3 linked regions of the Homo sapiens genome follow. The protein of the gene in region 2 interacts with the protein of the main gene of each other region in a pairwise test. Each region holds a gene or a part of one and is shown on either strand. Other genes may lie near its edges. The genes, in order: C1orf174, PDIK1L and CTDSPL2.

Region 1 (3,749 bases), about 22 Mb from region 2:
TAGGATACAGGATCTACTATTTCCACGATTTTGGAGGCTTGGGACGATCTGTCCCCCTTATCTTGTATATTTCTAGTAGCCACCATTTGTCCTTTAGTGGAAATTAAGTCAACTTCAAAGTGTTTAGAATAAGCAGCACATGCCCTTCCTTAGAAGGCTCTCCAACTTTCATACGTTGTCAAAGTTTTTAAAAAAAGGTAACATGAGGAAACCAAAGTTTCTCTTCCTCAAATTAGACTCCTATTCTATTAGCTGAATGCAGCTAGCGACTGTCTCACAAATTTTAATATTAACAAACTGGTCCACCTCTCTTTTATCCTGAATGCAAAGCAAACTCCTCTAATAACAAGAAAGAAATTAATTAAAGACATAACATTTAAAATAACTATTTAGGAATAATTTTCGGCATTCAGAAAGTTGCAAAAAATAGTACAAAGAAACTGGTGTGATAGCTCACACCTGTAATCCCAGCTACTTGGGAAGCTGAGGTAGGAGGATCGCTCGAGCCCAGGAGTTCAAGACCAGCCTGGGCAATACAGCGAAAGCCCATCTTTAAAAAATTTTTTTAAAAATTAGCCAGGTGTGGTGGTGTGCACCTGTAGTCCCAGCTATGTGGGAGGCTGAGGTGAGAGGATCACTTGATCCCAGGAGTCTGAGGCTGTAGTGAGCTATGACTGCACCACTGCACTCCACCTGGGTGACAGAGTGAGACAGTGTCTCTGAAAAAATAATAATAATAAAATAGTACAGGGAGTTGCCATGTAGCCTTCACTCAGCTTCCACTAATGTTAAACAACTACAGGACATTGTCAACATTAAGAAATTAGTGACATTACGGTACTCTTCACTAAACTATAGATTTTATTTGTATTTTATCGGTTTCTCCATGAACCGTTTTTCTGTTCCAGAATCCAGTCCACAATACCACACTGCACTTAGAAAACTCGAAAGGAATGAGTGTGAGTAGTAGAAGCAACAAACAGGAGCAATGCAGGTTGACATGGCCGGGAAAGGCCCAAGAGCTGCTGCCAACAGGCCCTAGAACTGGAACCCAGAAGGGGACGGATGAAGAGTGCCCTGCCCAACAGCAGATAAGAGAAATAAAAAAAGGAAAAAAACAAAAAAATAAAACACAGAAATAATCTGTCTCGGCTGGGCGCGGTGGCTCACGGCTGTAATCCCAGCACTTTGGGAGGCTGAGGCAGGTGGATCACAAGGTCAGGAGATCGAGACCATCCCGGCTAACACAGTGAAACCCCGTCTCTACTAAAAATACAAAAAATTAGCCGGGCGTGGTGGTGGGCGCCTGTAGTCCCAGCTACTTGGGAGGCTGAGGCAGGAGAATGGCGTGAACCCAGGAGGCGGAGCTTGCAGTGAGCCGAGATTGCGCCACCGCACTCCAGCCTGGGTGACAGAGCAAGACTCCGTCTCAAAAAAAAAAAAAAAAAGAAATAATCTGTCTCAGCCATGCACCCCGTAGCCCAAGACAGCTCCAGAAACCCTGTGGGGTGGCAGCTCCAAGGTCCTGTGATACTGTGGCAGTCAGAGTGTGTGTCTGAAACAGGAGGGAGAAGAGCAGGCAGCAGCCCACCGGAGGCCAGGACGCCCGCCTGCTGTACACAGGACACGCCAGTTGCCCACAGGCTGGGTGAAGTGCCTGCTACCACAGCACACCGGGGGCTGCGCCTCCGTCCTCTCACAAGGGCAGGGCTTTGCTGAGAGCCCCGGCAGACGTCATGGTCACAGTTACACCAAGGGGACTGAGGCAACAGAGGTTACAGAACTTGCTAAGAGTTGCCATAAACATCTCTCATCAAAATCCTCCCACTGGGTCTTAAACAAGCCCATCTCCCTAAAACGCCATCACGTGCCTCGTAGGGAAAAGACATCTCTGACCTAGAAAGCCACTGCCCCACCTCTCCTCCCTGCTGTGAGCCCTCCTCCGGGCGCTTTGCTGCTCTGTGCTGGAGTATGCTGTGTGGGGAGCCCAGCTCGGTGCCTGAACAGCTTTAAAGGAGTGGCACACCCATTTCAGATGAGGACAACTTGGGTAAGGAGCTTATGAGGTTATACGAGTGATGCCTGGCTTCCAAATCTCTATTCCATCACCACAGCTCACCCTAGATATGACCCCCAACAACTGCCTGAGGTGGGGATTGAACTGAAGAAGCTGCCACCCGCTCTGTGTTCTACGCCTGCACGTCTTTTCCCGCAGCAGGTGCTTCTCAAGGCTTCTGTCAGCATCTTGGCAGCAGTGGTTCTGAACTTTTCGCGTGCAACAGGTTCATCAGGTGGACCTTTTGGCCCCTTCTGCAGAGAAAAGCCAGATGATCTGCTGGGCTGGAAGCGCTGGCTGTTAACAGACACCTGAGGATCTGGTGGGCCTGGAAGCGCTGGCTGTTAACAGACACCTGAGCAGGCCATTTGCTGTCCTCTCCGGATTGACAGGAGTCAAAACATGAGATCGGCTTAGCTTCAGTTTCGTCATGGATTAACCACCTCCAAGGTGTCAACTCCAAAATGTCAAGAATTGGTCACAGTCTCACTTGCAGATTCCTGCTCTGCAGCTGGGCAGCTTGGACTGCTCCCACAGTCCAAAAAAGGAAAGACTTTCTCATCATTGAGATTCTCCTCATTCCAGTAGATTGTTTAATAACTGGTATGTCAGAAGCACAAACATGGTTTCTCCAAAAGGGCTGGCCGAGACTGACTTCAACATGATGGCTCGAGGAGCTTCACTGACCTTCTCAGAGAGTAATGAGCAGTCCCAAAACAGCCATTTAGAGAGCCTTTGGAAATGGTCCTATGGGCACCCAGCAAATGAAGAAACACTTGCTCCAGAACACCTACATACATTTGGTAAGGACACGGAGAGTCTGTGGCACTTGAGCTCCATCCTGCTGCAGCCAAGAACACAGGGCCACCTCCCCAGCTCCCAGGCAGCGGGGTGTCTTCCCAGGAGAGGCAGGATAGCAGTGCTTCCCTTTCTGCTCTCATCCCACCTGTGACTGAGACCAGGTCCTGAGTGAGTAGGATTGAGAAGAGGGGCCCTCCTTTCTGCTCAGACCCTATTTGTAGAATGAAGGCTTCACCTTGGCTCCATTCTACCAGTACGGTTTAAGCCTCTGCAAGAGGCTCCGCCCAGTGAACGGAGAAGACTGGGGCCCCATCAACCCCGTCCTAGATATGAGGTGGTTCCAGGCTGGGGAAGACACATTTGGAGGATCTCAGGCTGCTGCTAGCTCCCCCAGCCCCTATTCAGAGAGGAGCCCATTACTGTCCTCAGCTGCAGGCCCTGGCTCAGAGGCTCTGCCTGGGATGAGAGGCAGGCAACTAAACAGACAGCTCTTACACCTGCCCAAAGGCACCAAATTCCCTGCCATGGAATGTGGAGAAGTTCCGGCCTAAGGGAGCTGTTCAAGTACCGTGGATGCTGTGACGAAGGGGGTGGAGGCAGTGGAGAATCAAGCAATAGGCCAAATTGTAGGCCAACCAGTTCGCAGAAGAGAACCAGAGACTAACACGGCTGGGAGGAGGCCTCTTGGACACAGAACAAACTAACCAAACACTGACCTTAGAAAGTATCCCTTCGAAGAAGCCACAATTTGATTGGATTAGTTTGTAGAGCAACTTATGCCCAGGCTGTTGCTGAGAACAGCACAATAACCTGGCATTAGCGAAGTTCAACAGCTGGATGTGGTCAGGGAAAGAGGAAAAGGACCTCACTAAAACCACTGTCATCCAGAGTG
Region 2 (3,749 bases):
AAGTGAAACACAAGTCTATCAGGCTTTAAAAGATGAAAGAGATTTACTAAACAAAAAGGTGCTTTAGATATAAAAATCACTGAATCAAGTCTGGTAGGCCTTTACATCTTAAAACTTTATGAGCTAATGCCTAGCTACTATAACAATTGCTGGATCTGGACTCAGCACTAAATAATATGTTTGTTTATTTGTTTATTTTTGAGACAGGGTCCCACTCTGTGATAAAGGCTAGAGTGCAGTGGTGCGATCATGGCTCACTGCAGTCTTGAACTCCTGGACTCTAGCAATCCTCCTGCCTCGGCTTCCTGAGTAGCTGGGACTAAAGGTGCGTGCCACCATGCTCAGCTAATAAATCTTTTGTTTAAATATCTTTGCTTTTCTAGTTCAAAATAGATCATGCCTCTTAGTCTCTAAAACTCAATGTAAAGTTCAGCAAGGTTCTATCCACTTTTTTTTTTTTTTTGAGACAGGGTCTGGCTCTTGCCCAGGCTGGAGTGCAGTGGCCCAATCTCGGCTCACTGTAACTTCCGCCTCCAAGGCTCAAGTGATCCTCCCACCTCAGCCTTCCAAGGAGATGGGACCACTGGTGTGTGCCACCACACCCAGCTAACTTTTTGTATTTTTCGTAGAGATGGGGTTTTGCCATGTTGCCCAGGCTGGTCTTGGAACTCCTGGCCTCAAGTGATCTGCCTGCCTCAGCCTCCCGAAGTGCCGGGATTACAGGTGTGAGCCACCATGTTTGGCTTTCTATCCACTTTTTGTTTTTGTTTTTGTTTTGGAGATGGAGTCTCGTTCTGTCACCCAGGCTGGAGTGCAGTGACATGATCTTGGCTCACTGCAATCTCTGCCTCCCGGGTTCAAGCAATTCTCCTGCCTCAGTCTCCTGGGTAGCTGGGACTACAGGCACACGCTGCCACACCTGGCTAATTTTTTGTATTTTAGTTTCACCGTGTTGCCGAGGCTGGTTTCAGACTCCTGAGCTCAGCCAATCTGCCTGCCTCGGCTAGGATTATAGGTGTGAACCATCATGCCTGGCCTCTATTCACTTTTCAGAGAGAACATAGTAAGAATGTTTCCAATATTTTCTATCAATTCAACTTACATAATAAGCACTTTAAGAAAAGCAAACAATAAAATGCACAGAGGCTAGTTATTTTTACTGTCATAAAACGGAAAACTTCAGGGCATTGGCTGGGCGAGGTGGCTCACGCCTGTAATCCCAGCACTTTGGGAGGCTGCAGCAGATGGATCACTTGAGGTCTGGAGTTCGAGACCAGCCTAGCCAACATGGTGAAACTCCATCTGTACTAAACATACAAAAATTAGCCAGGCATGGTGACGGGCACCTGTAGTCCCAACTACTCAGGAGGTTGAGCCAGGAGAATCACTTGAACCTGGGAGGCGGAGGTTGCAGTGAGCCGAGATCGCACCACTGCACTCCAGCCTGAGCGACAGAGCAAGACTCTGTCTCAAAAAAGAAAAAAAAAAAAAAAAAAAAAAAAAAAGGTTGGGCGCAGTGGCTCACGCCTGTAATCCCAACACTTTGGGAGGCCGAGGTGGGTGGATCACCTGAGGTCAGAAGTTCAAGACCAGCCTGGTCCACATGGTGAAATCTCATCTCTACTAAATACACAAAAATTAGCCGGGCGTGGTGGCAGTTGCCTGTAATCCCAGCTACTCGGGAGGCTGAGGCAGGAGAACTGCTTGAACCCGGGAGGCGGAGGTGGCAGTAAGCCGAGATTGCACCACTGCGCTCCAGCCTGGGCGACAAGAGCAAAAACTTCTTCTCAAAAACAAAAAACAAAAAACAAAAAACTTCAGGGCACAGAGTGCTAAACTGCAATATAAATTAATATAAATTAAGTTCTCAAGACTAATACTGCTCATCGTACAAGGAAACTTGCAAGTTTCTTAATACATACATTCGTGTATTTGTTTTCTTTGTTGTTCCTAGTCCAAAACTTTTCTTGTTTTAAAAACAGAGGTTTTGTTTTCTTTTTTGTTTTGGGGGACAGAATCTCGCTGTCACCCAGGCTGCAGTGCAGTGGCATGATGTCAGTTCACTGCAACCTCTGCCTCCTGGGTTCAAGTGATCCTCCCACCTCAGCCTCCCAAGTAGCTGGGACTATAAGGCACATGCCACCATGCCTGGCTAATTTTTGCACTTTTTTTTTGTACAGATGGGGTTTTGCTATGTTACCCAGGCTGGTCTTGAACTCCTGGGTTGAAGTGATCCTCCTGCTTCACCCTCCTAAATTGTTGGGATTAGAGGCGTAAGCCACCACGCCTGACCAAAAGCAGAGTTTTTTTTTTTTTTTGAGATGGAGTCTTGCTCTGTCCCCCAGGCTGGAGTGCAGTGGTGCGATCTTGGTTCACTGCAACCTCTGCCTCCTGGATTCAAGAGATTCTCCGGCCTCAGGCTTCTGAGTAGTTAGGACTACAGTTGCACGTTATCATGCCAGGCTAATTTTTGTAGTTTTTTAGTAGAGACAGGGTTTTGCCATGTTGGCCAGGCTGGTCTCAAACTCCTGACCTCAGGTGATCCGCCTGCCTCGGCCTCCCAAAGTGCTGGGATTACAGGCGTGATGAGCCACCATGCCCAGCCCAAAAGCAGACTTTTAAATGGTAAAAGTCTGATGGTAAATTCTGAATTTAGACACACTCAAAGAAAGTTGTTTTCTTTTCCAAGAATGACTAGTTTCTTTTTGTTTTTTTTTTTTTGACGGAGTCTCGCTCAGTTGCCCAGGCTGGAGTGCAGTGGCGCGATCTCGGCTCACGGCAAGCTCCGCCTCCCCGGTTCACGCCATTCTCCTGCCTCAGCCTCCCCAGTAGCTGGGACTACAGGCGTCCACCACTACGCCCAGCTAATTTTTTTGTATTTTTAGTAGAGACGGGGTTTCACCGTGTTAGCCAGGATGGTCTTGATCTCCTGACCTCGTGATCTGCCCGTCCTGGCCTCCCAAAGTGCTGGGATTACAGGCGTGAGCCACTGTGCCTGGCCCAAGAATGACTAGCTTTAAGAAATTCTGCCCTAGCCTTTAACAAGCTATGTCTTAATATATTTTCTATTCTTTGAGTATAGAGCTACTAGAGATTTTAATTTCTGGCAGAAGCCAACAAAAGAAAAACAGAAAAGCTTTTCCATTTTCCCAGGTTTACAGAAGAGTAATCTGGGAGTTAAGAAAGCATAAGCTTCAGCTGTCATTCTCAGCTCCAGCTCCCAATTGTACCACTTACTATGTATGTGATTTTGGATGAATTCATTATCTATACTATAAGCCTCAGTTTCTTCATTTGTAATGAAGATAATAATAGTCCTTTCCTCACAGGATTGTTTTGAGCAACTGCTTTTAAAGCACTCAGCACAGAGCATCGAACTGCATGCAAATTCAAATGTTAGCTGTTAGCACTGTTAATAACATTCAGGTGTTAAATCATGTACTTCATGAAAATTAACTGGAACTGCGTGGTGAAGAAACCAGATATCCCTCTAAAACAGCAGAGGCTTACATTCAAACCAGTGATTTATAAAAGAGATGCCCAATTACCTAGGGGTGTTGCTACTGGTTGTGGAATTTTTCCTTTTCTTCTGTCCTCAAGTCCAAAATTATTGATTTCAAAGAAATGAAGTTATTAGACTGTAGTCTCAAGCACCTCTCTAGTTCCTATCTTGCCCCATTCCTATGCAGACTGGCAAGTACCATTGCATAACAGGTGGCTTATGTTATTTTTAGGTATGTGCCTCACAG
Region 3 (3,749 bases), on a different chromosome or scaffold from region 2:
TTAAGTTGCATATTTGGCTCCATTTTTTAAATAAACTGACTCGGCAAGTAGTTAACGTGCCTGTACCTCCACTATTCTATTCGCCTTAGGAAAGTATGAAGCTCAACTTAATCCTAAAAAACTCCTTCACATAAGAGCTACCTTTTGCCTTGACTTTCTTTATGACCTTGGGCAAAGTCTACCAAATGAGGATTATAATAATGTTTGTGTGTTCCTGTTTATTATTGAAAATTAACCATAACATCGTGCAAACAATAGTGAAATTCTCTAAACTGGACCTATCCAGAACTGAAAACCTGAGTTATAAATATCAACTGATATTCAATGTGAACAGTTTTTAAAATTTTAATTTGATTAGTGAAAACAAAAAAACCTACAAAGATCCCAAATTCAACATGATTAATAAATTCCGAAAACACCAACAGCCTCCTTATTACTTCTCTTTATGAACAATTGGTCTGCAATGTAATTTAAAAAAAAGGAAAGAAAAAGTAAAGAAATATAGTAAAACTAGCTTTAACACGCCATTTCCCTTTTCTAAGAATAAAAAATGGACCAGGAACGAAAATTTAAAACTGGGCGAAGAATGGGGAGACAAAGCAATCTACAATTTGAAAATTACACAGATAAATCCATCATTTCAAGTCACTAATTTGTATACCCACTGAAGAAATTCATCTTGGTACTGCGTTACCAGCATTAGGAAGATAAATCCCTGCCTCGGAGGAACATCTACTGAGTACGTTTCATTTCAGGATCTCAGGTAAGTTTACGAGCTCTTAGATCTCTTTAGGTTTCCCTAAGGTACGCTGAAGTGTTTAACATCATTCACACATCCAGCCACCACTAGGGTGAGAAGTAAATAAACAAGATTTACTTATGCAATTATTTACCACAGAACTCTGGTCAAGAATGCAAAAGTAAACACCCATACAGACATTTAAAATCCAAAGAAAGCAGAGAATATTAAGGATAATAAGGTTCACTCTTTAACTGACCACTGTGGAAACCAGACGCCTTCCACATGGACTGTTCTTTACTACCACTCCCGATTTGAAAAAGTAACAATGTCAACTCGAGATTTTAACAGTACAAAAGATAAACAGAACTTAGTCAAATCCCTTCTTCCAGATTCTGAAAAGGTGTTTATAAGAACTGAGATAAGAGCAACGCCCCCCTAAAAGCACCCTACTCCAAAGAATGAAATGCTGAAAACATGAGGTGGGCCAAAAAGGTTAAAAAAAGCTAAACTTCTAACTTAATTACCCAGAGGTTGGGGACTAGGAACTTGAGATCGGAGTGGGGGTGGGTAGCAAAGTGAAATCTAACCCCAGAAATCACAACGCAGGCCGCAACCTAAGAGGTGAAGCTGGCGGGAAGTGAGCTCCCTTTCTGTTCCCAGGGGAAAGTCCAGACAGGAGCGGCTCCGCACAGTGGACGTACGAGGCGCCAAAGAGTGCATGCCTACCAAGGCGCCAGAGCCGCTGGAGGACCAGGTTTAGAAGGGGAGGAGATCCCGGCAGACGGCCCTGGAAGAGGAGGAGGACTGAGATTGGAAGCAGCGGCGGCGTCTGGACGAAGGGGATTACCTAACTGTGACGACAGAGAAGTGTCCTCAGGCTCCGGCGATGGTCCCGACTGCGCAATGTGTGGTGTCTTTCCCGCTTACCCCGCAGCAGCAACAGAACCAGCTCCTTCAGCCAGTCGCCATTTCCCGCCTACCGACCTGCTGCACCGCACGGACAGGGACCCGGATGGAAAGCGGCCTCTCCGCGCAGGCGCCCTGACTTCCTCCTCCCCCTCCCGCCACAATTCCGCGAGGTGGGAGGGAAGGAATGCGGGCAGCCACAACGGCAACAACAACCAAAAAAACACTTTTACTTCCGTGAAGAGCGTTGAAGTTCCTTACGCCGGAAGAAACTCTCTAGTCTGAATCCTGGAGAAAAACTGAACACAAGGCCTTAGTACTGGGTCGATTAAGAAAGGACAAAACCTATCAGGATGAGCAAGGGCCTGGGGGATATTTGTACATTAGGGGCCTCCGTAGCCGGCTGTGTAGTGGTCGCAGGGGGAGTAGGGAGTAAAGCGTTAGGAGTGGAGAGGCGGGGACCCGAAGGACGGTTTTTCCTCCCGCTCCTAACGGAACTGCTTGGGCAGAGCTGGGAGGGGGAGCGCGCCCTTGCCCCGGAGGCGGGGCTTAGGAACGCGTAGTGCACCCTGGCGGCTAGGGTTTAGTAACTGTGGGCGCGCTGGGTAGGTGGAGCTGAGGGGATAAGGCGGGACTAACGGCTTGGCGCGCTGGAGGAGGTAGTTCGTAGGGAGAGCTGCCTGAGGCCGGGAGAAAGCGAATCTGGCGCCTTTCCTGGGATTTCGGTGGCCCTTGAAGGTTCCCTTTCCAGCTCATTGCCTAGAGGGCGTAGCAGTCGCTTTTGGATCATAAATATTCATGCCCTTCGACTCAACCCTATGTTGGCGGTGATTCTGCAGGTTGAAAACTCGGATCTTTCAGGCCAGTGGGCTCCCACCTGCGACCCTAGGTCAAAGGACGGTCAGCTCCACAGAGTGAAAATGTATCAGTCCAGAGAATCCAGTTCTAGTGGGGTATCGGAAAACCAAGCCTAGTGTTTGGAAGAACATTTTTCACTGAAACTCCAAGCCACTCTCCTTATTCAATCAAGAAATATTTATTGAAAAAATAACTAGGTGCGACGGGTAAAACAGTGAGCCAGGCAGACACGGATACTGCCTTCCCCAAAGGTAATGATTTTTTTTTTTTTTCGAGACGGAGTCTTCACTCTGTCGCCCAGGATGGAGTGCAGTGGCGCGATCTCGGCTCAAACCTCCACCTCCCGGGTTCAAGCGATTCTTCTGCCTCAGCCCCCCGAGAAGCTGGGATTACAGGCGCGCGCCACCACGACCGGCTAATTTTTGTATTTTTAGTAGAGACGGGGTTTCACCACGTTGGTCAGGCTGGTCTCGTACTCCTGACCTCGTGATCCGCCCGCTTCGGCCTCCCAAAGTGCTGGTATTACAGGCGTGAGCCACCGCGCCCGGCCAAAGATCATAATCTATTGAAGAAGACACCCAAGTAAACAGAATTTAAAAACTGATAAAGCGAATACAAGGATGGCATGATAGGCGTTGTAAAACACATGAGAGTGCCGGCGAGGGGGTCTGGGAAGGTTTCGTAAGATAACATCTGAGACAAAAAGGAGGAGTGTGTGTTGCAGGGGAAGAGTGTCTGGGTAAAGGAAACAACAGACGGAAAAGTCCAAAGATGAGACTGTGTTGAGCCATTGGAGAAGTAGTTCTGTGCGCTAAGAAAAGAGGATGGGAGGGCAGGGGGAAGATGGCAAGAGAGGCTGAGAAGTAAGCAGAAATAACATACCGTTGTGAATCTCATTATTTCGAAGTATGGAGCAGGTGGGTTGTCTTCTGAAAACCTTGTATACTACAGATTCTTCTGTCAGAGTTCATTTGCACCCTAAATCTTCCTAGTGCAAAAATGCTCTGAATGCGACATTTATTGGGAGCTGGTGGTATACACAGCACAGAACTATTAATAGTAACAGTCCACACACACAAAAATAGATTCCTGAAAAGTTCAATGGAATCCAACAAATAATTAGTTTATCCAGAGTGTATCATGGAAAGCAGTAAAATACCAACTAAACAGTTACCCCATTATTACTAAAGTTTATTTTATTTATTTATTTATTTTTAGAGACAGGGTCTCACTCCATTCCCCA

The links.
Region 1: the proteins of PDIK1L (region 2) and C1orf174 interact in binary tests that used the Homo sapiens proteins (3 or more experiments, as listed by UniProt).
Region 3: the proteins of PDIK1L (region 2) and CTDSPL2 interact in binary tests that used the Homo sapiens proteins (3 or more experiments, as listed by UniProt).

What each region holds. Positions count from the first base shown.
Region 1 is NC_000001.11:3,893,176-3,896,924, forward strand, and holds part of C1orf174 (UPF0688 protein C1orf174), read right to left. Parts: exon of another isoform or gene 2,120-3,749; intron 1-2,119.
Region 2 is NC_000001.11:26,114,772-26,118,520, reverse strand, and holds part of PDIK1L (serine/threonine-protein kinase PDIK1L), read right to left. Parts: intron 1-3,749.
Region 3 is NC_000015.10:44,425,613-44,429,361, reverse strand, and holds the start of CTDSPL2 (CTD small phosphatase-like protein 2), read right to left. Parts: upstream 1,734-3,749; 5' UTR 1,590-1,733; exon of another isoform or gene 1,469-1,589; intron 1-1,468. UniProt on the Homo sapiens protein: Probable phosphatase.